Homo sapiens: one gene and its partners. The protein of the gene in region 2 interacts with the protein of the main gene of each other region in a biochemical or structural test. Each region holds a gene or a part of one and is shown on either strand. Other genes may lie near its edges. The genes, in order: KCTD12, GABBR2 and NSF.

Region 1 (9,863 bases), on a different chromosome or scaffold from region 2:
AATATCCAAAGGACACCTCACAGCATGGAGCATGACGAGGTTTATTTCCCTTCACTTATGGTTTACATAGGATATGCATTGGGAATTTATTCCATGTAAGAGTAAAGGCATAAGGCAACCAGGTCTCCTTCTGTTTCTGTTGCATTTACCTATTATTGGACCATTTTATTGCTCAGCTCACTTTTAAGTACTTATTTGCCTTCATTTAAAAATATTCCATTTTACAGCTATCTACAGATAGGCAGCCCTTGGTGCTGAGTTCTCTGCAGCTCGTCATTTGAAAGGATTCCACTTAACTTCAAACAAACTGCATGAAAGTGGCATTTTCAGGTTTTCAGGTTTGCCCAGAAGTCAACGTTTGCTGGGCTTGGAGAAAATAAGGATTTTTAATAAGTGATCTTAGGTCTAAGTAACCAAAATGAAACTTCTTTTGCGCAATAGATTCCAAAATCAGGATTTATAATCAACAAGAAAATAAAAGTTCAAAAACTAAAACCCTACTGGGTAACTCTTTGGTTAGATTATATATAAGCATTAACAACTCTAAGTTTAGGACTCAAAACAGTAAGTTAAGTAAACTGCCAGGTAAGAGTAGGTCTGTTATTAATCTTTATAAAATACTTGGCATGTTTGCATTTACTATATGATATTTTTTAAATGTGCATATACTCAAACAGATGGTACAAACTTCCAACTTTCAAATCATAAATGACTATGTCTGCTTCTCCCTTCCCACCCTTCCTACCCTTTCCTCCCTCCCCACCCCACCCCGCCCACCAAGTCTTACAGCTAAAGGAAGGTCCTACTGACATTCATTGAAAGAATACAGGCTTTCCTAATACCCACGACGTGCACTATGACCCAGCTCCCTACAGTCACTGCCAGGTGACCTCCTACGGCGCTTGGAGACCTGAGCAGCCTTGCACTCTTAGGCGGCAGCGTCCTTTCTCCCTCTTGCCAGTAACTGCTGCCATGTCAACCAGTGGAATCAAGGGCTTCTGGCGAGCAGCAGCTGAAAAGGGCGCCTCTGCAGGCAGGCGGATCACTTTCTATAAGTTTAAGCTACAGGCTGAGACCTTTTATTCTGTACGAGAAAGGATCCTTTACTGTCCCACGCACTAGATTCTTCTACTTTACGTGTAACTTTTCAAAACTTTATTAGTTTAGTTACTGAACTGCCTCCATGGGGTCCTAATTCCAGGCTCAGAATCTTCCATCCAGCCTTCTAAAACTCTACCTTCAAAAGAGGTCAAAAAGACTGTGTAATGACCTTGTAAAACACTAACCCCAGACAGTGGAACCAATCCTGATCTCTTAAACCCCCAGTGAGTCATAAGAGCTTGAGAAGATTTCAAGGAAATCTTCCGCACATTGGACACGGTCCAATCAGGTTCTGAACAATTCAATCATCCCCCGGTCTGTGGCCACACTCCCCCAATAGATCCAAACTGAAGTACCATCTGGGGGAGGGGTGGTTTGAGGCAGGGAGTAGAGAAAGCATGGAGTGGTAGGTGGGGGTGGGGTGGGGGTTCCTCTGGGTTCTCTCGGTTCAGGAGGTCCAAAGAAGACGAAGCAGCCCAGAGGATTTGCGGCTGCAGGTTCTGTAGTGGAGGGAAGGTGGGCGGACAGGTCTCACCCAGCTACTACTGGAGGGGGAGAATGGGAGGGCAGCAGCCAGGGGACAAAGGTGGGACAAGAGGCTCTGTAATCATCTCTCGGGCAGGAGAAGGACTGGGCGCTGGAGTGGCGAGGGGGTCTGGGGAGCTCACTCCCTGCAGAAGACGTACTCGGTGTAGCTGGTCCAGATCTTGTCCTCGCTCTGGTCGGTGCTGCTGGCAAAGGCGCAGGTGCCCGTGGAGCTGCACGCCACCATGTGGAAGCCCGACTCGGACAGCTTGTCGAAGGCCTGCTCCAGGAAGTTGAACTTGAGGTAATAGCGCGAGGTGTAGCGCTCCGGGGGACGGTCGGGGTCCCGGCTTTCGTTCAGGGTGTCCCCAAACACCTCCTTGGCCAGCGACGTCTTTCCGCAAACGGTGATGCGCGCCACTCGCCGGAACTTGGCGTCCGCCTGCGCGTCCCGCCCGATGGTGTAGGAGCCGCGGTAGCCGATGGTGATGTAGCCCGAGCGCCGGCTGCCGTCCAGCGACTGGGACGGCGTGAGCAGCGGGCCCGCCGCGCCCCCGGACGGACTGCGGCTAGCCAGCTCCAGCGTGGGCGACGGCGCCCCGGCAGAGGCGCCCTCCTGCTGTTCGGGCTCCGAGTAGCCAAGCGGCAGCAGCTCGTCACCCAGCGAGCCCTCCTTGTGCACCCCGCGCCGCGAGGGCGGCGGCCCCGGGCCGGGCTGCTGGGGCGCCCCGAGGCGGCGCACGAGCTCTGGCAGCTCGAAGTACTCGGCCTCGCGCTGCAGCCGGCTGCGCTCGGGGAAGTAGTCGGGCAGCACGAGCTGCAAGTCCCGCAGGTAATCCAGGATGTAGCGGAAGAGGAAGCCGTCCCGGTCCAGAAAGAAGCGGCCTTTGCTGTCCCGGGCCAGCTCCTGCGGCTGCTGCTGCGTGAACATGCGCCAGAGCAGCGAGTCGGGCACCGACACCACCGTGCAGCGCCGGGTCACGTACACCTGGCCCCCCACGTTCAGCTCCACGATGTCGGGGAAGAGCGGTGGCTCCGCGGAGGACGACGAGGAGCCACTGCCGCCCCCGCCGCCGCCCCCGTTGGGTAATCCACGTGTGCTGTCCGCCAGAGCCATGACAGAGAGGTGGCCGGGCCGGGACAGTGGCAGGAAGCCGCGCTGCACTCAGGAGCTGCAACCGCCTTCCCCGGAGCCCCGGAACCCGGACGCTCGCTCAGCCCTGCGCCCCGCCGCCGCCGCCGCCGCCACCGCCGCCACCGCCACCGCCGCCACCTCCTAGAGCCGCGCGGAGCCGAGCGGTGCGAGCGCGCCGCTGTGCGCCCCCTTGAGTTCCAGTGCGCTCCGCCCGCCTTGCCCGCGCGCTCCAGGCGAGTGCCGGGTCGCGGCCCGCGCGCTGCTTAAGTAGAGCCGCCTGCTCTGGTGCCGTGGCGCGCAGGAGGCGTGGGCGGCGGCGGAGCCTCGCTTACCGGGCGAGGGGAGGTGGGGAGCGGGGACTCGATTTGCATCTTAAACGCGGACGCCACGCGGGGCTGCTGGCTCCACCCCGGCTCGCGAGCGCTGGGGGCGCCCGGACTCCCACCCGCTCCCCACCCACCAGCCCCGCCCCGTGGTCCCGCCCAACTTTCTCCCTCTTCCGAAGAGGACCCGCCCGAGACTTGGCGGCTTCGGAAGACAGCTCCTTGGAGGGACAGTCACCGCGCCCCCTCCCCTCTCGCCCCAGCCCGCACCCAAGGACTCTGGAAGGAGGACGTGAACTTTCGGAAGCCTGTCGCCCCGGGAGTGGAAATGCGTGGCCGCCTCCGGCCCTCCCGCCTGCGGAACTGGGCGCTTCCAGCAGTGCAGCTGCGGCCTGCCATCGTTGGTTGTCGTGTCACTGAAAGTAGAGAGACGCGAAAAACCTGGAGAGACGAAAGAGCCGCCCCAGTCCGAGCGCAGCCAGATTTTGTTCAAGTTGCCTTGCAGCCAGCCTGGAAAATAAATAAATAAACCTAGAAACAAAAAGCAAACCTCAGTGTCCCGCAGTAGGATGCTTTACGATAGTTTATTTTCTGGCTGCAGAGACAAAATGAGATGAAGCTTCAAATCTGCTCTTAATTGCAATTCCCTCTTCCCGCAGGGCCTTCGAGGCACTTCACTTCGAAGTGAAGGGGTAAGACTCCGGAACGTTCGGTCTCCGGGTCCCATTCAGCCTTCGTTGAATCGCGCCCTTAGACTCACAACAGTTGCAGATCTAACGTAATTTTTAAAGCCACCTTTGGCGCCTGCATGTTTATCCTTCCAAAAGTCCAGGCGCCCCTTCTCTCCCGCATGCCTCGGTCACTCTTCGGCCCTGTCCAAGTTCCCGTCAGTCTCAGAAAGGGATATTTATATATCTGAAGGCCCTTGTCTGGATCCCATCTCTCAACTCCTGCTGCCTACACGTTTGCTTTTCCCCCTCGGACTGCAGCCCACAGAACCGCCCCCTCCCCCTGGAAGCTTTCCCTGGCTTCCCAGGTGGGTGGGGCCTCTGGATGGCTCCCTACACACTGTCTGCGCTGCTCCCAGCACGTTCTGAAATGTCATATTTATGAGTGATTATCTGATCACTGATTTGGGTATGAAAATAAGTAAGAGCTCCTGAATGCTGCAAAAAGAGAAGAGTGCAGAGGAGGGTGTCAAGAAATGATTGGGTCACTGAATGTTTCTTGTGTACCTGCTATTATTTGCAGGGCACCAGGGAGTGAGGAATGCAAAGGCGAATAATCTCCAAAGCGCTTTCAGTGTAGCCCAATAAGCAAAGGGTCAGGGGTCTGCGCAGTTATCACATCAGTTTGAAGTATAGACCACACATCAGGATAAATCAGGCAAGATCTTTGTTCTTGATAAAATTTATCCTTCTGTGTAACTACCCAGTGAGCTTCACAGTCTCCTCACAGATAAATGTCATTTTTATTTTGAAATGTTTATATCTGCTCAACAATTACCGCGCTCATGTCAGTGTGCTGAAATGAGATCAACCCCCAAACCAGTTATCTTAATTGCAAGTACAGATTTTGATACTGAATGTATTTCAACATTCTTTTTTTGTTGTTGTTCTGTTCTTTGGGATAAATAATAGATAACACAAAACTTCCAAGTCCCAGTGCAGGATTTCGAGGTGGTTGTGCTACTAGGCGTTATATTAGTGTCAGAGACCTGACAAAACCAGCCTCTTTTCTACAAATCCAAGAAAAGCCTTCTTTGTATCAGTTCTGCACATATTTTTGTATAATTACCATTGCTCATTGCATCAGCAAATCCTGCCAGCTCTGTGTTAAAAATCTTTCTAGACTATTAACGTATTTCACCATCTCCCTATCATCACCCTGGACCAAGCCACCATCATCTCTTGCCTGGATTATTGCACTGGTCTCCTAACTGCTTCTACTTCTGCTCCTACAGTCTTGTATCACCAGAACAAAAACAGGGACCCTGCTTATAATCCAAGGCTGGTATGTCACTCTGCTCAGAGCCTGCCAGTGGCTTCCTATCTCAGAAAGAGCAAAATCCAAAGTCCTCTCAGTGGCTTACAAGACTCTACATGTTTGGAGTTATCCCACCAGCACCTCTCTGACACATCTCCTGCCCTGCCCCCAGGAGCTGGCTGGCTTTAGCCACATAGCCCCTTTCTTGTTTTCTCAGGGCCTTTGCACATCCTTGTAAAAGTCTCATTTCTCCTCCCTCCCGTGTTCCTCACCTTGTTCAGGTCCCTCCCTTCTCACCTTCTTCAGGTCTGCCCAGCAAGACCTTTCCTTGATTCCACTTCTTAATGCAGCACAGCCTCACTGCAGCTTCCTCTTCCTTGCCTTATTTGTTGACTCTTTTCCTACATCAGAATATAAACTCCAAGACTTCAGCAGTTTTTGTCTGCTTGGTTCACTGCCACACCCCCACTGCCTAGAACAGAGCTGGTATATTACAGGCATTTGATAAATATCTGTTGCTCACGCAAGCATTCAACCACTATTTATTCAGGGCCTACTACTATATTCCAGGCTGCATGTTAAAAAATAATCACTGCCCACTAGGAGCTTATAGTCTTGCGAGGGAGACAAATAAATATAGTATAAAGATAAGTAAGCCTATTTCAGGTGGTGATAAATGCCACAAAGAAAATAAAATTATAAGATGTGATAGAGGGACTGAGTGTGGAATACTACTTTATACAGAGTGCCTGGGGAAGGCATCTCTGTGAATGTGACATTTGAGCTGAATAATAAGAAAGAGACAGCCATGGGAAGTTTTGGAGGAAGAGCATTCCAGGCACAGGGTCAAACAAGTTAAAGGGGCCTGAGTTATGAGTGAGCTCACATTGAAAGTTTATGTATTGTGTCATCTACTTGTATCCTGTGAATCTCCAAAGTACCCTTGAGATGATCAGTACAGAGTCAAATGTGAGTGATACCGTGTGCTTATTCACTACCTGCAGCCTACTATCATCATTCTCTACATCTTGACATAAGGTAGTCATCAACCACCAGCTAGTCTACTGCAGAAAAGCCATTGGTATTTCCTTATGGAAGCCAGGTAATGCATGAGAGATATAATAATGAATGAAACAGGTGATTTGAAACACAAGGAATGTTTTTCTAGTTAATTTTGTGTGTTCTGTTTCTTGCCTATTGGTTGGTATCACAGAATTCAAAAGGAAATACTACTGGGGAACTCTGATGCTGGGACTTGAGGGCCTGAGTGTTTATAAGAAGAGAGTCATAACTCTTTAGCATCTCCAGTATGTTAAATATGCTTGATTGCAAGGGATTGGGGAGGATTTGGAAACCCACTAGCCCTGTGTTTAGTCTCAAACCAGTTTCTAATGATGGTCATTGCTAATTGATGGTCATTGCTCCTTTTCAAGTAACTCTTTGTATTTTCCTGAATAAGATACAGTGTGCCTGCAAGTAACCTGTCCTTTGATCCTAAAGTGGAGGATACTGGAAACATCTCTGGACCTACATTCTCATCTCATTTGCATCTTCTCCCCCACCTACTGCCTTCTCTTCAAACCAGCTTCCCCTCCCACTCCCCACAGTAATCCTTCTTATCCAAAGTTTCCATTACCATGGTTTCAGTTACCCATGGTCAGCTGTGGTTTGAAAATATTACATGGAAATTCCAGAAATATAACTAATTCATAAATTCAAAATTGCACACCATTCAGAGTAGTGTGATGAAATCTCCCACTGTCCTGCTTCGTCTTGCCCTGGACATGAATATCCACACCTCTACACTCCCAACCCATGAGTCACTTAGTAGCCATCTCAGCTGTCAGATCAACTGTCTTAGTATCACCCTATCACAGTGCTTGTGTTCAAGTAACACTCAGTTTACTTAATAAATGGCCACAAATTACAAGAGTAGTGATGCTGGCAATTCAGATATGCCAAAGAGAAGCCATAAAATGCTGCCTTTAAGTGAAAAGGTGAAAGTTCTCAATTTAATAAGAAAAAAAAAGTTACATCCCAAGGTTGCTAAGATCTATGATAAGAATGTAGACATTGTGAAATTTCTGTGAAATTATGAAGGAAAAATTTGTGCTAGTTTTGCTGTCACACCTCCAAACACAAAACGTATGGCACAGAGTGCATGATAAGTGTGTAGTGAAAATGGAAAAGGCATTAAACTTGTGGATTGAAGACATGAAGAGAAACATGTTCCAATGGACAGCAATCAGGTTCAGTACTACCTACGGTTTCAGTCACCCACTGAGGGTCTTGGAATGTATACCCTTTGTATGAAAGGAGACTACTGTATTCTGCATACCAAAGATTTAAGGAAAGGAATGAGGAACATGAAGAGAAATATAAAGTTAAAGGGGAGGAAGAACTGGTGAAATGAAGTGAGTGCCTTTGAGAATTGAATGAATTTAATATATGTGAAAATGATCTGTACATTGTAAAACACCATTCAAGTGTCAGAATCATTATTTTCCACCACTTATCATGGTGCTTGACAAGTCTTCCCAATAAATACTGAATGAACAAATGAATGGCAGAAACATTAAAATGAACACTATGGGGAAAGGGGAAGAGAGGCAGAATCAGAAATTATCCTGAATAAATATTTATTCCATTTGTCATCCTCCTAATATGTGTGAATCTTTTCTCCATGCAGGCTTTAGAAGTCATTGACTTTTTGCATTTAGAAGGAGAGATTAATTGAATAACATTAAGTGAATCCGGAGGCAAAATGATCTTAATAAAGATTTGGTAAAAGATGTGACAATATTTAACCTGAAGAAAAGAGAACAAAATGTTATATAGGGTACACTGCCAAAATACTAGGTCTAAATTCCAGTTACTCAGGAGGCTGAGGCAGGAGAATTGCTTGAACCTGAGAGGCAGAGGTTGCAGTGAGCCAAGGTCGCACCACTGCACTCCAGCCTAGGCAACAGAGCGAGACCCCATCTCAAAAAACAAAACAAACAAAAAAAAAAAACAGGTCTAGACAGTAAAGAATATCCCAACATTGTATGATTATCTCTAGAGTATGATTTTTATGATTTATAGAACCAAACAAAGAAACAAAAGTTAACAATGTTGATATTTCTATACCCTTAAGATGGTGTTTGGAGCTTATCCAGGAAACAAATAATATAACAAGCATGTATAGAGTACTTACTATGAGCCAGCCCTATTTATAGAACTATACATGTATGAACTCATTTAATCCTAACAATAACTTTATGAGGTTGGTGCTATTACCCAAGTTTTAGATGAGAAACTGAGGCACAGTGAACTAATTTTCCCAAGATCATACAGCAAATAGGTGCTGGAGCTGGGATTTGAACCCAGGCAGTGTAGCCTTAGAATCTGTGCTTTTAAACACTGCATTTTAAATCCCCTTTCCTCTAGGAGTGCTTTACATGTATTAAGAAGTAAGTTATATTATTTTCCCCCTTTACAGATGAGAAACCCAAGGCAAAGAGAAGTAAGGTAACTTGACCAAGATAACACAGCTCTTTATCTCTGCTGGGGGCAGAAATGCTACTCTAAAGTCTACGTGCTTGTGTTCCGCAGTACTGGTAACCAGAAACTCAAAGTAGCCACCCTGAAAGAACTAGGGTTAAGAAAGAGTCAAGTCCTTGGCCCTTATTTCTTCTTTCTGCCTTCTTTTTTCCTTCCAACCTATTTTAGGTTTATGGGTACCTGTGCAGGTTTGTTACACAGGTAAATTGCACGTCGCAGGGGTTTGGTGTACAGATTATTTCATCACCAAAGTAATAAGCATAGTACCTGATAGGTAGTTTTTGGATTCTCACCTTCCATCCAACCTCTACCCTCAAGTAGGCTCCAATGTCTATTGTTCCCTTCCTTGTATCCATGTGTACTTTTACCCAAATAAGAATCTCTATTTGAGCCCCTGGATAGAACTGACACACTATTGTCCTAATCTTTCCCTAATTCAGTCCTGTACACAAAATAAACAAGATTTTATTTCTGGCTCTCTCAAATATCATTACGGTTTGCAAAGCACCAAGTTCCTAGCATGTTCATTTGGCTTTATTCTGATCTCATTAACTCTTGACAAGGATAAAGTGAATCCATGGAAACTGCTGAGATCTAGGTTCCAGTTTCCCAAAGCAAGCAGTATCCACTGGTCTTCTGGGGCTCATAAAATTGAACAAGTGCATTCTACTTGTGGCTTTGCATATCAAACTGAACACAAAAATAGCTGGCCCTCATCACTTGAGTGATTCTGGAACTTCTGACTAAGACTAATTATTAACATCACTGATGTTTCATAAGAATTTGAAAGTCTTGGTTTCCAATCATGATATTAAATTTAGAGAGGAACTATATATAAGTTATCACATTCTAATCACATTCTAGTGTTTTTCTGTTTCGAGTGTTTTCATATTGTCAGGTTGACTTAATTATCACAATTTTGTGAGGTGTTAACCAACCTGTGTTCCAAATGAAGAAAGAAACTCAAAAAGGTTAGGTGACTCACACCTCCTCTCAGGTGGCTGGGATGCAGTGCTGGGATGCACGTGGATGCTTCCTGATTTCATATCCCATGCTCTTTGAACTCTTCAGCAGCCATATCAGCTCCATTTAACACCCAAATGAAGGTTGTCATTCAAAATAATCACCTTGAAGACTATATACTCCTTTGAGGGATGCTGGAATCACTCACCATTTTTGGTACATTTGTTTGGAAATTTTCTTCAAAGCCAATTTACACAAGAATATCACCCTATTATTTTATACTTATG
Region 2 (10,665 bases):
ATGATGTGTGATCACACAGAGGAGAGCAGTGCTCCCTACGGTGGTTGTGTTCACCAAGAGCCAGCCCAGTTACGACCACCCTTATTCATGGAGTTATTCATCTGACAGGTCAGAGAAATTAAGAGGTAGCATGTATCAGGGTTTCAGCCGGGCTTTAGCAAGGCTTTTCATGATTTTCAGGAGTGCAAGACAGAGAAATGAGGACTGCAGAATGTGGAAGTTGGGAGCAATTTTCAGTAGGTTTAATTGTAGAACCAGAGGCGGCAGATGACCCCCAGTGTGGGCAGTCACAGGGTGTGTCTTTGGCATTCTCCTATTTAACATTTTGACTAATGCTATAGGATGAGAAAGAAAATCCTATTGTGCAATGACAATGGCATTAACTGAGAGGGATGGTGAATATGAGTGATAAGAGACTCACCACACAAGGATGCCTTCAACAGGCTGCAACATCAGGACATGGTCAAAGGTGAAATGTTTCAATCCTATTCAGAGGCCTCCAAATTAAACGGCTGATAAGTAATGTTAGAGAGATGTGGCTTGCTGTTCTTTTGAAGCATCAGCAACAATAACCCCATAGAAAACAAACCTAGGGTTCTTAGAGAACCACAAGCTTCCTATAAGCCAAAGGGGTGATGCAGCTGCTAGCAAAATGTGGGTAAATCTGGACTATAAGGACAGTGGGGACAGCAGTCACAGGTGTGAGCACAGAAGGGCAGCCATGCTCTTCTACATCTTTCTTGGCCCAGGTGGAGGGTTTTGTGGTTGGTTCTGGGTAATGTCTTTGAGGAGAGCCATGAGCAGACTCTAGACTTGTGGCCAGGGGAGGTTTGGGGGCATTTCTCCCAAAGAAGAAGACTTGGCTAGAGGTGGAGAGTGAGGGGGTGCCTAGGAACTACCTCTGGGAAGGAACTGCCATGGGTGAGAGGGAGTGCTGTGGACTCCTGCAACAGGTTAAAACCCGGTAAAAGCTGTAGAAAGGCCTACTGGTGGAGCCTAAGAAAAAAATGTGTGAAAACCTCATGAATCAAGTAATGAAGTGGGAACCTCAGCAGGCACTGATCTTGCCATCTTTAGCAGTAATATAATTATTTATTACATGCCTAATAAGTACCTAGTACTGTGTTAAGAACTTTATATGCATTATCTTAATAAGGGAGATAATTACATGTAAAGTGGTTTAAACAGTGTCTGGCACATGTGAATGCTCACTATGTGTTAGCTATTGTCATTATCTAATCCTCACAATAACCCTATGAAAGAGGAACCTTTATTGTTCCCAGTTTACAGATGGAGAAAATGAAGCTCGGGAAGTTAAGTAACTTACTCAAAGTTGCACCACTAATACTTAGCAAGCCAGAATTTGAGGCCAGGGCTGCCTGACTCCAAAACTCACCACTGTCCCTAAGGGGTAAAGAGGGACTCATATGTTTGGAGGGGTAGGAAAAGAGGCTTCCTAAGCCTGTTCTTCGTCTAAGGTTCTGTTCTAAAACTCTCCCTCTTGTCCATCCTGGGTCCCCTTTGTTAATAATCTAATTGTTTTTGAAACCTCTAAATGAGAGAGGATTTAATCCCTGTTGCCAGTCTGTGTTGTTCTGGAGACCACCCAATTACAAGCTAAATGTCCTTTCTGTGTTCATTCAGGACCTGTCCCACTGACCTGAATCAATCTTCCACAGTTCTCAAACCACATGAAGAGTATGGGTAAAGGAGGAGGCTCTGGGCTCTGCTGGCCTGCCCTAGCCTTGCCGTTGACTCTTTTTTTTTTTCTTTGAGATGGAGTCTCGCTCTGTCACCCAGGCTGGAGTGCAGTGGCCCGATCTCGGGTCACTGCAACCTCCGCCTCCTGGGTTCAAGCAATTGTCCTGCCTCAGCCTCCTGAGTAGCTGGGATTACAGGCCCATGCCACCATGCCCGGCTAATTTTTTTTTTTTTAGTAGCGACAGGGTTTCACCATGTTGGTCAGGCTGATCTTGAATTCCTGACCTCGTGATCCGCCCGCCTCTGCCTCCTAAAGTGCTGGGATTACAGGTGTGAGCCACCGTGCCCAGCCGCTGTTGACTCTTGAAGGATTTAGTCATAGACTCTCCAGGCCAGACACTCTCCTCCCTGATAACCCAAAAGAGGACCCAGATTCTCTTTAACTCAGTGGAGTTCCCTGGTTAGCTCATTTCACTTCTTTCTGGTGTGGACCCTCAGCAGTGTTCTTTGTCTCTTTAAGGCTGTCCTATTCAGTTCTATAAAGGCATCTTCAAGGAGAGGCAAGTAGAGCGGAGACAAATGCAGGAATTTGGGGTCAGGCAGGACTGGGTTTGACAGGACTGGTCAGACAGTACTGGGTTTGGACCCCCTTGCTGCCTCTGCCAAGTATCATTAGGCACACCATTTCATCAAGCTGTACCTTAATCTCTTAATTTGCAAAACTGGGATCCTAACACCAATTTTTCAGGCAGATGTGAAGATTAAGATGATGCATACCAAGGTGTCTGGCACAGAGTAGGTAGGTGTTTAATAAATGGTAGCTATTGTTATTACTCAAGCTGTGTCACCAGACCACATATGATACCTGAAACCTAATTTTATGGTTTAAAAAACATGCCTTGTGAAAAGGGATATGCAACTTAGATTCATTCAGTTAGTCTTTTTTAGAGCCATCATTCATAACTTACCATTTTTAAAAAAGCAAGGAAATGAAAATAAATAATGCACTTCAAGAAAAAAAATAGGCTGCCAACTACTTGGTTGAAAGAAACATTTCCATATAAACATGAATGAGAAATAACATGGGAGATGTTTGCAAAGATGGCATGTGTGTGCCTATGTGTGTGTATGTAAACCATACACACACACACACACTCTCTCTCTCACACACACACACACAATTGCAGCTCCACCCTTCCAGTCTCAATCCTATATATTAGTTTGGTACAAAAGTAATTGCAGTTTTTACCATTACTTTCAATGGCAAAAACTGCAATTACTTTTGCACCAACCTTATATCAACTATATATATATAGTTTGTTTTGTTTTAAAGAAGAAAGTGAGAGAAGACCTTGCTGCTGTTAGGAGTTAGAGTAGAGGCAGGCATGGATAACAATCAAATGGGGAAAAGGGTGTTAAAAACTGGACCCAGTTCCTGGAAGGAGGCAGCTCTGGAGGGCAGATCTGAGCAGCCCTGGGTGGCACAGGGTGTCAGCCCAATAAGGAAGGAGAGCAGACAGCAGAGAAAGGCCTGGTTAGCTTCCCAGCATCAGGATCCTGTTCAAAGGGATGGAGTGTCATGTTGACAGGGAGCCAGCTGGACCATGGAGCCCCAAAATCCCCAGAAAGGAAGCGGGCACCATCTCTCAACCTCTGAGCTGGGGTTTAGAGACTGGCTTCTGTGTGTAGGCAGAGGGTTTGTGAGAAAAGATTGCTAAGGAAACAGGATTATGCAAACAAGATAATAATTTAAGCCATACAGACCTGGGCTAACACGGATGTTTCATTACTTCCTGGAGGTGCAACCTGAGCACGTTGCTTTCTAAGTCTCTATTACATCTCTTAAAAGGTAGATGAGTTCAAGGGAATCAAGTGTTTTCCACATTCTGGGACTTGGCCAATGCATTTTATTCCAATTAATAAGAAGCACAATGATTAGCCAATTCTCATCCTCTCTTCTGCTTATACCCTGGCCTGGCCACCAAATGTGCTTATTGTAGTAGAGACTCCTAACAGGTATTCCTGCTCACGCTCTTTTCCCCTGCTAACGGTTCTTCACTCTACAGCCAGAGTGATCCTCTTAAAATACATCAGATCATGTCACTGCTCCACCCAGTAGCCTCCCACGGTTGCTGTTTCATGTGCCCTCCCAGTGCTGAGGCCCCATACAGTCCTACCTGCCTTTGACCTTGGATCTGATTGCTTTCCCTTTGCCCACTCTGCTCTACCACATTGGCTTCCACATTGTTCCTTGAACATGCCAGGCACACTCCTGTCTCGGAGCCTCTGCCCTTGCTGTTCCTCTGCATGGAACACTATTCGCCTGTCTCTCTTACTTACCTTCTTTATGTCTTTGCTGAGGAGTCACCTTAGTGTGTCTTTCCCTGACCTCCCTATTTCAAATTGCAGCCCCACTCTGCCAGTCTCAATCCTCTTTCCTGCTTTTTTGTTCACCATAGCACTTTTCATAAATGGGCATACTAACATATCTTCTTCTTCCTATTTATTGTTTCTCTTTCTCCACTAGAATGTCAATTCTACAAGGGCAGGGATTTTGTTCTGGTTTTTTCCTTCCTATATCATCAGCTCCTAGGACAGTGCCTAGCAGGTAGCATGCCCTTCAAAACACTGGTCAAAGGAATGAATGATTATTATAAAGCAAGACGCTGGACCCCAGCTCTGGAGGAACATGCATTCTAGGCTGGTGACTGAGGCAGGAACTCAGACTCAGGAAGCACATCAGGGATGCAGTTACCCAAACTGTAATACCAGGCCAGAGTAAGATCTTGGAACCAGAGGGATGCCCAGGCATTAGGAGTGGGCTGTGAGATCAGAGATTGGCCTGGAGCCATGCTGATGGAGAGTGAGATTGGTGCCCCCTGGGTCAGGGCAGATCCCAGGTCATGCGTCTTGGGGCCAGGTCACCCCACCATAAAAGAAGACAGAGGGGCTGTAGGGCAGGATGCCAGGTAGGGCCTTCAACCCCTTAGTAAATGTCAGGCAAAGTTACCCAGCTTTCAACTTATTCCCAGATGTAGGTGTCAGTGGACACTCTATATTGGCACAGCTTGCAAGGAGGACACAAATGACTAAAGGAAAGAATTAGAAAAAAGAAAAAAACCAAGTGAAAATGTTCATTCAGAAACCTGAGCTAAGGGTTTGAGGAATGGCAGGTGCCAGAAGACTATGACTGGAGGATATTTGTGATGTCAAGTGAGACAGCAGTTGAGCGAGTATCTGGGGATTACACTGTCCTTTGGACCATTTCTTTCCCTCCCTCCCTTCCTTCCTCCCTTCCTGGAGGAGATGCTCAGGTGAGTTCTGTTCATGCAAACCCTCCAGCTTGGGGAAAAGGAAATGCCAAGTGGAGCCGGGAGAGGTGGAGTCTATAGAAGCCTGGAAAGAGAAGTTAGGGCAGAGAGAATTTGGCCTGGTTTCCCTGGCGCTGTCCAAGGTACTCTCTAGTAGTTCTGCTCAGCCTCCACTCACATCTTTGTGCTTCCTAACAACTCAGCCTGGATTCAGAGCTGCCCTTGCCTCACTCCAGTAGAGCTGGTGTGTGGCCATCATCATCATCATCCGGTCCAAATCCCTCACCATATGCCGGAGGGAATCGATGTCCAGAGCAACTGAGTCAGGGCAGTGCTCCTCCTGGAGAGGAAACTTGCAGTCCCACATCCCTGGCTCCCACTGCACTGTGCACGGAGTTCCTGCTGGCTCTGGGTTCCGGTCCTTCAGTAGCTCTGTGTGCTTCCACTAGCTACAGAACCTCTCTGAGCACCAGTGTATTCGCCTGTAAAGTAAGGGTGAGTAACACAGTATGCTTACAGGGCAGTTGTGGGGATTACATCATAAGGCACACAGTAAGTACTCAGCGAAGGTCAAACTTCCATTCTTGTTACAAGGTCGTCGATATCTTCCACAGTCCCTGGTTCAGGCTCAAGTATGTTTTGTGATTTGATGTCCTACTGTGTTCCTCGCATTAATCAGCCCCTGGGACTTTATAGATTAATGATCACGTTTCCTATTCTTGAAGTATGCAGAGGCACAAGGAACCCAAGGTCTTAGGTCAGCTCACTCGGGTACATCTGGCTCGGGACTGCTTTGGCTAAGATTGGCCAGTGCGACCTGGCAGAGAGAGGGCCAAGTCCAGGGGCGCGCGGCCCCGCCCTGGCCTGAGGATAGTGCTCCCACCCCGGGAGACTTCTAGGGCGGGGCCCATCAAGAATGGGGACGCGGGGAGGTCAAATGCCTGGAGGGGGCGGTAGCGCACGTAAGGTTGGGACCCCAGCTTTGCTTGGGGTTGGCAAAGGGCGGTCGCTCCGTCTGGTGGGGAGGAAAGGGGTGTCCTCAGCCAAGGCCCTAAAGGCCGGGCAGCCTGGCACCAACGGGCGTTCGAGCACCCGTGGGCGTCTTCAGCGACCCCCGGGACTCGGTCAGGGGCTCGTGGGCGCCAGAAAAGAACGGGAGAGCGTAGGCTGCAGATGCCTCTGGGACGCCTTCGTGGAACATTCTCCTGCCCAGACCTTCCCGGCCAGACCTCCGAGAAGCGGTTCCAAACCACCGTGCAGGTGCTACAGGCAGCGCTCGGCGGAGCGGCGGCGGCCACTGCGTGTGCCAGCGCGCGGTCCCGGTTCCCAGATCGCTGTCCCCGGGCGCTCTGGTGCCTGGAGGTCAGCGGTCGGCGGGCAGCGGCAGCTGGCGCAGCGGAGGGCCGGGGGCGCGTGTGTGCGTGTGCTGGGAAGGTGGCCCTCCCCGCGGCCGCCGCAGCGCCAGCGCCTCCCCCTCCCCCGGCGCGCACGGCTCGTCCCCGTCCCTGGAGGCGGCCCGAGCCGCCCCTGAGCAGCCTCGCCTTCGCCTCCCGCGTTTCCTGCCGTCCGCCCTCCCCCGGCCGAGCTCCAGGGGCTGCCGCCTAGCAGCTCCCGGCGGGAGAGCGGTTCAGAGCGCGCACGGGGGCGGGCGGAGGCGGCCCGGTGCGGGGCGGCCGCGCTGGAGAGAGGCGCGCGCGGAGACGCCGGCCCCCCTCTCCGCGTTTGCTCGCTTGCTCCCCGCCTCCCGCACTCCGCTCGCTCCCACCCCTTCCCGGCGTGATTGATCCGTCACGGGCGCCGCCGCTGCCGCCGCCGCCGCCGCGGCCGTTCTGAGCCGAGCCGGAACCCTAGCCCGAGACGGAGCCGGGGCCCGGGCCGGCGCCATTGCGCGGGCGCCGCGGGAAGACCTTGGCGCGGGGCGGCGGGCCGGGCCAGGCCATGCGGGCCGAGTGAGCCGGCGCCCGCAGCCCGCGGCGCGGCATGGCTTCCCCGCGGAGCTCCGGGCAGCCCGGGCCGCCGCCGCCGCCGCCACCGCCGCCCGCGCGCCTGCTACTGCTACTGCTGCTGCCGCTGCTGCTGCCTCTGGCGCCCGGGGCCTGGGGCTGGGCGCGGGGCGCCCCCCGGCCGCCGCCCAGCAGCCCGCCGCTCTCCATCATGGGCCTCATGCCGCTCACCAAGGAGGTGGCCAAGGGCAGCATCGGGCGCGGTGTGCTCCCCGCCGTGGAACTGGCCATCGAGCAGATCCGCAACGAGTCACTCCTGCGCCCCTACTTCCTCGACCTGCGGCTCTATGACACGGAGGTGAGTGTCCGGCTGCCCCTGCCGTCGGGGCTTCGGGGGGCATTGGGGTGGGTGGTTTGGACACAGGCAACCTCCGGCCTTTGGTCAGATCCCCGATTGACCGGCCCGCGCCTGCCGAGGGCAGAGAGGGCTGGTGCCCAGTGTTCACCCCCGCGGTCCTGCTGGGCTTGGCTGGCACAGCTGGTAACATTTGCCAAGCACCCCCTCCTCTGGTCTTATGTGTGTATGTGTGTGTGGGGAGGGGTGGGGGTGGGATAGAAGACTGGGGTCTCTTTTGACCAGAGAAAAAGGAGTGGAGAAGGTGGGGGCTGGACCCCCAAAGGCCTACATTGATTGTCCCTGTCCAGGTCCCGCTCATGGGGCTGCGAGGTACCGAGTGGGAGGAACAGGCGCATTGACTGCAAACTGGGCCACCCAGGGCCGGAGGGGCCGCGGGCCTGCTCACAGGCCCCCAGGGAAGCCGAGCCGCGCTTTGAGGTCCGGAAGGCTCCGGAACCCAAGGGGCTTGAGCGTGCAGCGTGGCTGGGCGCCTGGTGCGCGCCAGCAGCTCTGAGCCCGCTCCGCGCGGGCAAGTGTGGGGCCACCGGCTCTGCAGCGCTTCTGCCTGGACGTGCCCGGCGCTGCCTGTGGCCAGAGCGATTTCAGGAGACCCCTGCCTCGGGTTAGTTGCTCAGAAAGTGCCCTGGCAGTTCTCGTCCCGGACGTGCAGTGGTGTCCGGCCGCGCCGCTGCTGTTGGCCGGGCGGCTGCAGGCAGTTTCTCACGGCTCAGGCTTGAAGCATCCGACCTAGCAGCCGGAGCACAGACTTGGAGAGCAGTCCGGAGCGGAGCCAGAGAGCCAAGGGCTTTCCATCCCAAGACCCCTCCCCACGCCCTCGGTTTGGGTTCTGCCTGAAGCCCCAGAGCGGACCTTCACCGCCAGGCCGGGGCTGGAGCGCGCGGAGCGGGTCTGGAGGAGCGATCGCTGGCCGCGCAAGGTCGGGTTTGCGAGTTTTTCCGGACCGAGCGAGCCCCTGTGCTCCGACCGCAGCGTCTGAGACGCGGCCTGAAGGGGGCAGTGATTTCCTGTGCAGTACGCTCGGTTGGCGCCTCTTCCATCGCGCGGAACGGGGCCGAGGCGCTGGGCTTGATCCTGGCTTCCTGGGACTCTCCGGGCGCTTCTGCTGGAGTCCAGGTGCAGAACCCTTTTGGGAGGAGGGTCGCGCTACTGCTCTGGTGGTGCAATCTGGGCTTCCCCTCCTCCTTGGTCGGACCCTCTTTATGTCCCCAGAGAAAGAGCAGAATCTAGATTGTATCTTATTCCCTGCCTCCCCCGCTTCACCGGTGAACCAGCTTGCTCTGCGCTGTAAATAAAAGGTGAAGGAACCGGTGGCAGTTGGCAGCGGTACGCGCAGGCTGCTGCAGGCGGAGAGGCGTCCTCTGCCCCAGAGGATGCAAGCTGGCTGGCTGTGCAGGGCTAACCCGGTGTGAAATCATTTCCGAATGACATTCCTATCGCCCTCGTCTTTGCCTGAGCATCTCAAGTTCTGTGGGGGTACTTGTCTGGCACACATAAATGGAGACAGCAATGCAGTTACACGGAGGCATATCTTCTTGACAGTTTCTCTGTTGCTACTGCACATATTCTTCTGGAGGGGTCACTGCAAAGCCGGTCTTTTGGGGACAAACACATTTTTAGATAGGGCAGCCCTGCTTGCATCATCACCAAGTATTGTCAGCTGCATAATGTTTTCATCATCAGTTTCTTCCCTTTAGAAAGCTTCCCTGAAAGAGATTTCATACTGGCCTGTTTGTGGCAGCAAAGAGATGGGTGCTTCGTTTCAGGGTGTGGGTTGAAGCCTTTACATTTTATTTTTCGAGTGTGTCTTGATGACTTTCTGAGTGAAAGGACCCAAAGTCAAGAGGATGAGACAGTCAGAAGACTCTTCAATTCGTGGGAATATTTAGAAAACAGTGGGAAGGAAGACAGAAGATAATTTTAGCTTCGTGCAAACAGAGAAGTGTCTCTAGCCTTTTGAAGGGGCCCAGAGCCAGGGCTTTGGGGTAGGTGGGGCCTGGGTTTTAGTGAGAAACTGGTTACTTTCCACCCTGGATGACCTTGAGCTGGGTATTTAATCTCTCTAAGCCTAGGTGGGAATATTATGTGTACTCTGCAGGTGACACACAGCTTAAGGAAGATAACAGGCCAGGGTAGAAGATGCCCTGAGCTGGCAGGCTCAGCGGCCAGTGCTCTGGCATGCTGTAAGCACTAAATAAATGTGTCCTGCTGCCTCCCCTCCTCCTCCTCCTTCTTTTTTTTTTTTTTTTTGTTTTTTTTGTTTTGTTTTGTTTTTGTTTTTTTGAGATAGAGTTTTGCTCTTGTTGCCCAGGCTGGAGTGCATTGGCGTGATCTTGGCTCACCGCAACCTCCACCTCCCAGGGTCAAGTGATTCTCCTGCCTCAGCCTCCCGTGTAGCTGGGATTACAGGCATGTGCCACCATGCCCAGCTAATTTTGTATTTTTAGTAGAGATGGGGTTTCTCCATGTTGGTCGGGCTGGTCTTGAACTCCCGACCTCAGGTGATCTGCCCACCTCTGCCTCCCAAAGTGCTGGGATTACAGGCATGAGCCACCGTGCCCAGCTCCCTTCCTTCATTTTTATTTCCTGTGAATTCACAAGTGGCCTTATCTTTAAAGTAGAGGTGCTTTCTCCCTGAGCCAGAGTGAAGGAAGGATCAGTCTAGGTAATTTGCAGCAAAATCTAGAGCGATCTAAAGAATGTTTGTGGCTAGTGTTAGAGTGTTTAGGGTCTAGTTTATTCAGATTGGCTGTCTTTGTGGACACTGCCTAATTATTTGCAGGCTGTGTCACATTGTTTGTAGACTTTAACACAGGGTGGATGTGGTGAACAGATTTTGGCTGGATTTGCTGACATTTGCTGTCAATCAGTGGCCTCAATGGCCAGTGACTATGGGCACCAGTATGGACCTTTATCCATATGATCTGCAGAGAGATGGAGATTTAGCAAGGAATGGGTTAATCTGGTCCCTGGGGACAATCTGTCTCAATAAAGGAGCCTCCTACAACCAGATTGACTCTCTTCTGTAAGTAGAATAGTGGTAGATTTTCAAAACCTCACTCAATGCCATGTGTTGGTAAAAATGAAACAGCCTAACAGAATACCTGTCTATCAGAACCTCTGCTTCTCTGGTGTAACACCAAATGGCTTCAGCAAATACTCGTTTATATATTCCAATGAGGATTTGAACAAGCAAGACAACTGAAAATACAGATAAAAGAAAGCATCAGAAACTATGTAGAAGCATAGAAGTTACTATACCAAGAACCTGGGCTAAAATTTATTGCATTGAGTA
Region 3 (9,930 bases), on a different chromosome or scaffold from region 2:
AAAAGACCAAAATACCCTGCATTACTCATAAACAGCTGATGCTAATTGATTTGGTTTCAAATCTATAGAGCACAAGTTGTGAGAAATTAACACTTTCAGCTTAAAGTCAAAGAAAAGGAGATCAGGTTAATAAAGTTATTGAGCTGAATTTTATTGAAGTGCTCTCTGTGTCTACTCTTATAAAATACAAGAGGAAAAATGTAGGTCAAAAATCCATAGCGGAAGGTTAAAAGTGTCTTTAAAACAAACAAACAAAAAACTGTCTCGTTCTGTTGCCCAGGCTGGAGTGCAGTGGCACGATCTCAACTCACTGCAACCTCCACCTCTTGGGTTCAAGCTGATTCTCATGCCTCAGCCTCCCAAGTAGCTGGAATTACAGGCGTGTGCCACCATGCCCGCTAATTTTTGGTAGAGACAGGGTTTTGCCATGTTGTCCAGGCTGGCCTTGAACTCCTGGCTTCAAGTGATCCACCCGCCTCAGCCTCCCAAAGTGCTAGGATTACAGGTGTGAGCCACCATGCCAGGCCAAAGTGTCTTTTTTTTTTTTTTTAAAGGAGTGGGGATTAAGTTGTTCCCAGAATTCATACGGAAAAGAGCCAAGAAATGCCAAATTAAGAAAGGTAATGAAAGTACGCCCTATGAAATAACAAGAATAATTTTAAAGCTACAGCAATTAAAACAGTGTTATTGATGCAAATATGGACAAAAAGAATTATGAAACGGAATAGAGTCGACACTTAGACCCACACATATATGGGAACTGGATATAATACAGAGATAGCATTGCAAATCAGTAAAGGAAAAAAATGGACTCAATAAATGATATTGAGACAACTGGTTATACATATGGAAAAGATAAAATTAGTTCATAATTCACACCAAACACAAAAATAAATTCCTGATCAATCACCAAAATGTGCAAGGCAAAATTTTAAAACTTTTATAAGAAAATGACTTCAGGGTGGAGAAAGATTTCCTGAAAAACACATAAAAGCACAAATCACCAAGGTAAAAAAAAAAAAAGGGTAATTATAACTATAAAATTTAAATCCAACACTCTATAAACATCATGAAAAGACCATCACTGTCTGAGAGAAGCTATTTACAACAAAGGATTAGAATCCAAAGCATACCCTACCCCCCAAAAAACGAAAAATTATACAAATCACTAAAAAAATACACAGCCCAACAGAAAAAATGAGCAAATATACAAAAGTAATTCACAGAAGGGGAAATCCCAATGACCAATATGAAAAATGCTTAATCTCACTAGTAATGAGGACAACATGCAAATTTAAACAATAGTTTTACACCTATTATATTGTAAAAGTTAAAATGTCAGCAATATTAAGTGTTGGAGAGGATATAAATAACAGGTACTCATATACTGCTAGTGACAGTATAAACTGGCATAACTAGGTAAAGATGAGTATGACTTATCGCCCAGCAATTCTACCTCTGGACACACATGCTAACTCTTACACATATATGCATGGAGACACACACTCATGTGTTGCTTAACAATAGGGATACATTCTGAGAAATGTGTCACTAGGTGATTTCATCGTTATATGAATATCATAGAGCGTACTTACACAAACCTATATGGTATAGCCTATTGCTCCTAGGCTACAAACCTGTACAGCATGTTACAGCACCAAATGCTGTAAGCAACTGTAACATAATGGGTAATTGTGTAACTAAACATATGTAAATATAGAAAGGTAGAGTAAATATATGGCATTATAATCTTTTGGGATCACCTTCCTATCTGCAGTCCCTCACTAACCAAAATATCGCTAATGTGGCAATGGCACTCGACTAAAATAATGTACATTCCGGGAAAAATAAAATTGGAACTGCCTAAATTGTCCTCTAATAAGAAAGTAGATGATTGTGGTATATTCACAAAACAGACTACAGAGTAGCTAAGCAGAATTAATTGGCTCACTATATATCCACAGGACTAAATTTCAAAATTATTTTAAGTGAAAAATGCAGGTTGCAGAAAGAAAGATATAGCATAAAACCATTATATACATTTTAAAGACACACAAAGCAATATATTGTTTTTGAGCATAAACATGCATAGATGTAGACAGAAAGAATCTATACCAACTTCAGGACAGTGATTACTTCTGGGAAAGGTCAGTGGTCTCAAGAAGGGATACTGCCAGGTGTGGTGGCTGCCACCTACAACCACAGCTACTCAGGAGGCTGAGGTGGGAGGATCACTTGAGGCCAGGTGTTGAGACTAACCTGAGCAACACAGAGAGATCCTATCTCTAAAAACTTTTTTTTAATTAGCCAGATGTGGTGGCACACCTCTGCTAGTCCAAGCTACTCAGGAAGCTGAAGCAGGAAGATTGCTCGAGCTCAGGAGTGTGAAGCTGCAGTGAGCTATGACTGCGCCACTGCACTCCAGCCCAGGCCACCAAGTGAGACTCAGCCTCTAAAAAAAATTTTTAAATAAAACTAAAAAAAAAAAAAAAAAGGAGCAATACAAAGAAGAGTCAATTGGATCTGTAATGTTCTATTTTTTATTTATTATTATTATTTTTGAGACTGAGTTTCACTCTTGTGGCCCAGGCTGGAGTTGTGATCTCGCTCACCGCAACCTCTGCCTCCCAGGTTCAAGCGATTCTCCTGCCTCAGCCTCTCGAGTAGCTGGGATTACAGGCATGTGCCACCATGCCCGGCTAATTTTGTATTTTTAGTAGAGACGGGGTTTCTCCATGTCAGCCAGGCTGGTCTCGAACTCCCGACCTCAGGTGATCCACCAGCCTCAGCCTCCCAAAGTGCTGGGATTACAAGTGTGAGCCACCATGCCCAGCTGTAATGTTCTATTTTTAAAAAGATAAATATCTGAAGCAGATATCATATGTTAACATTTCTTAAACCTCAGTGGTAATCACATGGATATATGTTATTCACTGTGCTTGTCATGCTTGAAATCTCTTAAAGTGTGCATGAATTATACTCATTCAAAAATACTTAGGGCTTCCAGAAATGGTTACATCTACAAAAGGAATATTTAGTTTTCACTATAAAAAAAAATAAGTTGGAAATTAGTAGTTTAAATCACTAGGAAACTGAAGTCAGTATAAGGTAGCTCTCAGAGCAATATTAAGGATATCAGTACTAAAATACGAAAGAGTATCTCACTGAGAGATTTTCACTTAAAATACCACAGCCAGAGTATAGATGTTTTAAAAAGCATTACAGCAAGTGCTTAGTGTATTGCCCAATGAAGGTATTTGTAAGGGTTCGCTCTTCTGCCACTGCCAAAATTTTCAATGGTAAGATAATATACTTTACCTTATACTTTTGCACCTTAACTTAACTACTTGAAAAAAAGAGTCATCCTATACATAAATTCCTCTGGGTTTCAGAAAGAAGAAGCTATCTAATGATGCTTTAAAGAATTGTTTTGTTTCCTAAAATTCATTGCATTTGAAGATACTTTTAAAAATATCCACTAAAGCGATACACAAAACTAATAACTACTGCATGTAAGACTGCAGAAAGTTGATATACTTTGGACAAACTTTCATTCAGGAAATGGACTACCAAACACTTTATAGTATTTGTTTTGATTTGTAGTACTGCACATGAGCTATCCACAATTTACAGCTTGAGTTCCAAAGTTTCATCTGAAAGTTTGTTTGGTAATGATGTCATTCACCCACAAAATGTTATAAATGACTAGGTTTCTAAACAAAGGCTACAAAAGCTTCTGATATTGATACTGATACTGAATATTCTGGCCTGCCCTAGTCAAAACACTAGATTCGACAAATTTTACCTCTAACATCTTTCCATACCCCTTTCAACTCCTAAGCAAGTTCTCTCTCGTTGGTTCCTATTTCACATTATCTTACTCCTATCTCTGCCAAACAGATGACCTCGACTAGGTTTAAGGACTTATGAAGAAAGAGATCCACTGGCTTTATTTGCACTAAAGTATGTGTATTTTCAGAAAGGGACTGCTGAATCTCCAGTAAGTGAGATTTCTGGCAATTTTAAAAGATAAGCATACAAAACAGTTCAGGCACTGTGGAAAACTTTTCTTTTTTCTTTTCCAGTAGTGGGAAGGTAGTGGTATCTTCTGATGACCTAGAAACTGTACACTGAATAACATCACACATTTTATTCTTCAGCCAATTTCCCAGATAAACTATATACGGTGCTTCATTGGAAAAAACTTCAATTACATAGTGAATATAAATCCCACTTATAAGATGATGTCAGAATATCAAAAGTAGTAAGAATGCAAAATAAACTGTCCCCCACAAAAAGGAAATATAAAACCCATTAAGAGTATCGCAACAGCCGGGCTCAGTGCCTCACGCCTGTAATCCCAGCACTTTGGTAGGCCAAGGCAGGCAAATCACTTGAGGTCAGGAGTTCGAGACCAGCCTGGCCAACATAGCAAAACCCTGTCTCTACTAAAAATAGAAAAATTAGCTGGGTGTGGTAGCACAGGCCTGTAATCCCAGCTACTAGGGATGCTGAGGCAGGAGAATTGCTTGAACCCAGTGAGTGGAGGTTGCAGTGAGCCAAGATCGCGCCACTGCACTACAGCCTGGGCAACAGAACAAGACTCTGTCTCAAAAAAAAAAAAAAAAAAAAAAAAAAAAGAGTATTGCAACAACAACAAAAACATTTGATAAAATTCAACATCCCTTCATGATTAAAAAAACTCTCAACAAATTAGGCATAGAAGGAATATATCTCAAAATAATAAAGTCTATACACAACAAACCCAGAGCTAACATCATACTGAATGAGGAGAGGTGAGATCTTTCTTCTAAAAGCTGGAATGAGGCAGGGATGCCCATTTTCACCACTCCTATTCACCACAGTACTGGAAATCCTAGCCAGAACAATCAGACAAGAGAAAGAAATGAAAGGCATCCAAACTGGACAAGAGAAAGTCAAATTGTCTCTTTGCTGATTATATATCTGTAGGTTTAGAAAACCTTTAAATCAGTAGCATTTCTATACATCAATAAGGATCTAGCCAAGAAAGAAATTAAGAAGGCAATCCCATTTACAATAGCTACCGAAAACAAACAAAAACCTAGGAATACATTTAACTAAGGAGGTGAAAGATCTCTACAAAGAAAACTACAAAACACCAATGAAAGAAAATAAATCAAAAAACATCCTATGCTTGTGGAAAGAATTAATATCACTAAAATGACCATATTGCCAAAGCAATCTACAGATTCAATGAAATCCCTATCAAAATACCAATGTGATTCATATGGGACCAAAAAAGGAAAAAGAAAAAAGCCCAAACAACCAAACCAAACCTGGGCAAAAAGAACAAAGCTGCAGACATCACATTATCTGACTTCAAAATATATTATAAAGCTATAGTAACCAAAACAGCATGGTATTGGTATAAAAATAGACATGTAGACCAATGGAACAGAATAGAGAATCCAGAAATAAAACCACATAATTATAGACAAATGATCTTCAACAACACTGACAAGAACTCACACTAAGGAAAGGACACTGTCTTCAATAAATGATGCTGGGAAAATTGCATAACTTCATGCAGAAGTGTGAAACTAGACCCCTATCTCTCACCATATACAAAAATCAACTCAAAATGGATTGAAGATTTTAAGACCCAAAACTATAAAAATACTACAAGAAAGTCTAGGGAAAACACTCCTGGACATTGGTGTAAGCAAAGAATTTATGATTAAGACATCAAAAGCCCAGGTAACATAAAGAAAACTAAACAAATGGGACTTAAGCAAACTAAAAAGCTTCTGCACAGCAAAAGAATAATCAACAGAATGAAGAGACAACCTGTTGAATGGGAGAAAATATTTGCAAAGTATTCATCAAGCAGAGGACTGATATCCAGAACATACAAGGAACTCGAACAACTCAAAAGGAAAATAACAAATAATCCCATTAAAAAAGAAGACATACAATGGCCAAAAGAAGACATGGAAAAATGTTCCACACCACTATCAGAGAAATGCACATCAAAACCACAATGAGATATCATCTTACCCCAGTCAGAATGGCTATTATTAAAAAGACAAAAAGTAACAGATGTTAGTAAGGATGCAGAGAAAAGGGAACTCTCACATACACTGTCGGTGGGAATGTAAACTAGTACAACCACTAAGGAACACTGTATGGAGATTTCTCAAAGCTAAAAATAGAATTACCTTCCATCCAGCAATCCCACTACTGGGTATCTACACAAAGGAAAAGAAATCAATGTATCAAAGGGATAGCTGCACTTGCATGTTTATTGCAGTACTATCACAATAGCAAAAATATGGAATCAACCACCTAAGTGTCCATCTACAGATGAATGGATAAAGAAGATGTCATACATGTACACAATGGAATACTATTCAGCCATAAAAAGAATGAAATCATATCATTTGCAGCAATGTGGATGGAACTGGAGGTTATTCTCTTAAGTGAAATAAGCCAGGCACAAAAAGACAAATATTGCATGCTTTCACATATATGTAGGAGCTACAAAATTTGAACACAAGGAGGCAGGGAGTGGAAAAATAGATAACAGAGACTGGGAAGGCGGAGTAAGGGAGAGAAAGGCTGAAGAGAAGTGGGTTAAAAGGTAAAAAGATCCAATGAGGTCAGTCGCGGTGGCTCATACTTGTAATCTCAGCACTTTGGGAGGCCAAGGCGGGTGGATCACCAGGTCAGGAGTCCAAGACCATCCTGACCAATGTGGTAAAACCCTGTCTCTACTAAAAATACAAAAATTAGCTGGGCGTGGTGGCACATGCCTGTAATCCTAGCTACTCAGGAGGCTGAGGCGGGAGAATCGCTTGAACCCGGGAGGCAGAGGTTGCAGTGAGGCCAAGATAACACCACTGCACTCCAGCCTGGGTGACGGAGCAAGACTCCGTCTCAAAAAAAAAAAAAAAAGATCCAGTGATAGGAGGAATAAATTCAATGTTTGATAGCTGAGTAGATGACTATACTTAATACATTGGACTCATGTACCCTGACTTGATCACTACACATTATACACATGTAAAAAAATTTTCATGTACTCCATAAATATGCACAAATAAAAGTATTGCAACAAGGTGAACTATTTTTGCTAAAAATCACTCAGTAGTTACTAGAAAATAAAGGCTATCAGAAGAAATGATAGACAATCAGATGGGCCAAAGTTTTTCAGATTTTCCAAAAGGTAGAAGATAGTTTCTGAACATTATTATGTCCAAAAAGTTCTAGGTGAGGTAAACCTAGTCTTTACTACACTCTTGCAACTAAGCTGGTGAACTAGGTAACAGTACCAGGCTGATCTGAGTTCAAATCTTGACCCTGCTTCTTGCTGGCTATGTGAACTTCTCAAGTTACTAAATCTCTCTCTCTTTCTCTCTGCAAAAAAACAAAGATAATACTACCTACTTTGCAGGTTGTTTTGTTGGAATTAAATGAGACACATCTGTATTTAAGCAACAGTGCCCAAGTGTATTAATGGGTATCAGTCTAGAGGCATGTCACTGGCAGCATGTCCAAGGGTTATTTCTGACCCTGTCTTATTCTATCCTTTACCAATAACTCAAACGTAGAAACAGAAGTCATGATTAAACCTACAGATCTAACCAAACTGGAAGAGACAGCTATTATGTTTCCTAACATGAAAGAACTAAGAATCCAGATTACCTCAACAAACAGCAGACATGCACTGACCTAAAAAAATGAATTGTAAAAGGATAAGGTCTTGATTTAGGTTCAATAAAACTGCTCTAAACCTAGAATGGAGCTAGGGAGCTGATTTTAAAAGAACATGAGTTTTCACTGACTACAAGCTCAGTATGAGCCAAGAATGTGATTTACTATAGAAAAAACGCTAATACAATTTTATCTGGTATGAATAATGGTAGTGTCCATCTCAAGACAATAATAGCTTAAGTACATTCTTCTCTGATCACTGTGTTCCACTCTGGGCACATTTTAGAAGAAAGGTTGACAAAACAGTAACATTAGGTTACTTCCAGAGGAAGGTAGCCTAAATGATGAAGGGTTTGGAATATGAAATATGCTAGGAATTGGGGGATGTTTAACTTGCAAAATCGAAAATCTGAGGAGATATGTAACCTGTATTCAAGTAAATGAGTAGCTTGAGTAGCTATTACATGGAAAAAGAATTGTGTTTAGTTCCGTATGGCTTGAAACAGCAGAAATAGTAACTACGTATAAAAGTTACATGGAACTCCAGATAACAAAGACCTAACATAGCTGTATGACATTACAGGCAAGCTTTAGGGTAATATACCATCTATCACCAGAGTGTTCAGAGACTGATTCATTTTCAACAAAAATGTATTGAGTACCTAAGTCCCACAAGGTACACAAAGCGCAGTTGATAATGACTAAATAACTTGTATGTTCTCTGCTTTTCACTGAGGTGAAGTGGTAGAAGCAAATAATAACACACACTCAAAGTAACAAAAAGATAAATCTCTAAGGAGAGGAATACAGTTCTTCAAGAGTATATAACAAAGGATCCTGACTTATAATGTGGGGTCAGAGTAGGCCTCCCTTGAGTAGCTAAGTGATGTCTGAGTAGGAGGTAAATGGTTGGGGGGAAGAACGTTACAAAGAAAGGAAACACCACTCGCAAAGACCTTGTGGTAAGAGAAACTACAGGTTCAAGGAATTGAAAGGCTCGTTTACCATATAACCTGAGCACACAGAGTAAGAGAATGAGTGGAAAGAAGCAGGAGCAGAACCACAAAGAGTCCTGAAGGCCTCATTAAGGATTTGGTTTTCTCCCAAAAGTAATGGGATGCTGCTGAGGAGGGGTTTAAGTAGTAATAGGCACGGGAAGGAACAATGAAGGTCAAGAATGAATTGGAGGTGGGCCACATGCTCTAAGAAGACTACTTGGGAGGCCGGGCACGAATCTCAGCACTTTGGGAGGCCAAGGCAGGTGGATGACCTGAGGTCAGGAGTTCGAGACCAGCCTGGCCAACATGGTAAAACCCCGTCTCTACTAGAAATACAAAAATTAGCCGGGTGTGGTGGTGGGCGCCTGTAATCCCAGTTACTCAGGAGGCTGAGGCAGGAAAATGGCTTGAACCCAGGAGGCGGAAGTTGCAGTGAGCAGGGATCACGCCATTGCACTCTAGCCTGGGTAACAAGAGCGAAACTCCATCTCAAACAAACGAACAAAAAAATACTTGGAAGCTTCCTGCAGTAGTCCAGACCAGAAATGATGGTAGTTTGGGAAAAGGAGGTAAAAATGAAGATGTGGAAAGGTGGACAGACTGGAGATTTTTAGGTTAAAATGACAGAACCCATGTGACCAATCCAGATAGTCCAGTGGGTGACTTGGAACTAGTCTAAAGCAACCATTCCCCCAAACCAGAGTCTTTGGCCCTAATTAAATACCTTTATGGGGGGCAGGAGCAGAACTCTGACAAATTTTACCGGGGGATAGGGCAGAGGACATGGGTACAGCAAAAGAGAGACATAAAGGGTTACCCACCCTCTCCCTCCCTCAGATTCCCAGCCTATATAACTGGGTGGATGATGGTATCATTCAGTGAGATATTCCTATCTCACTGGATAGGTACAGATGGTCCCTGACTTACAATGGTTTGACTTAACATTTTTCAACTTTACAATAGTGCAAAGGTGATAGGCATTCAGCAGAAACTGTACTTTGAAGACCTACACAACCATTCTGTTTTTCACTATCAGCACAGTAATAAATGACATGAGGTATTCAACATTTTATAATATAGGTTTATGTTAGATGATTTTGCCCAACTGTAGGCTAATGTAAGTGTTCTGTGCATGTGTAAGGAAGGCAGGCTAGGCTAAGCTATGATATTCGGTAGATCGGGTGTATTAAATGCATTTTCAACTTCTGATACTTTCAGCTTACAATGGGTTTATCGG

The links.
Region 1: the proteins of GABBR2 (region 2) and KCTD12 form a complex in vitro, tested with the Homo sapiens proteins (2 studies listed by BioGRID).
Region 3: the proteins of GABBR2 (region 2) and NSF form a complex in vitro, tested with the Homo sapiens proteins (one study listed by IntAct).

The regions. Positions count from the first base shown.
Region 1 is NC_000013.11:76,883,406-76,893,268, forward strand, and holds the start of KCTD12 (BTB/POZ domain-containing protein KCTD12), read right to left. Parts: upstream 3,001-9,863; 5' UTR 2,744-3,000; coding exon 1,766-2,743; 3' UTR 1-1,765. UniProt on the Homo sapiens protein: Auxiliary subunit of GABA-B receptors that determine the pharmacology and kinetics of the receptor response. Increases agonist potency and markedly alter the G-protein signaling of the receptors by accelerating onset and promoting desensitization.
Region 2 is NC_000009.12:98,705,065-98,715,729, reverse strand, and holds the start of GABBR2 (gamma-aminobutyric acid type B receptor subunit 2 precursor), read left to right. Parts: upstream 1-6,794; 5' UTR 6,795-6,992; coding exon 6,993-7,313; intron 7,314-10,665. UniProt on the Homo sapiens protein: Component of a heterodimeric G-protein coupled receptor for GABA, formed by GABBR1 and GABBR2. Within the heterodimeric GABA receptor, only GABBR1 seems to bind agonists, while GABBR2 mediates coupling to G proteins.
Region 3 is NC_000017.11:46,592,499-46,602,428, reverse strand, and holds part of NSF (vesicle-fusing ATPase), read right to left. Parts: intron 1-9,930.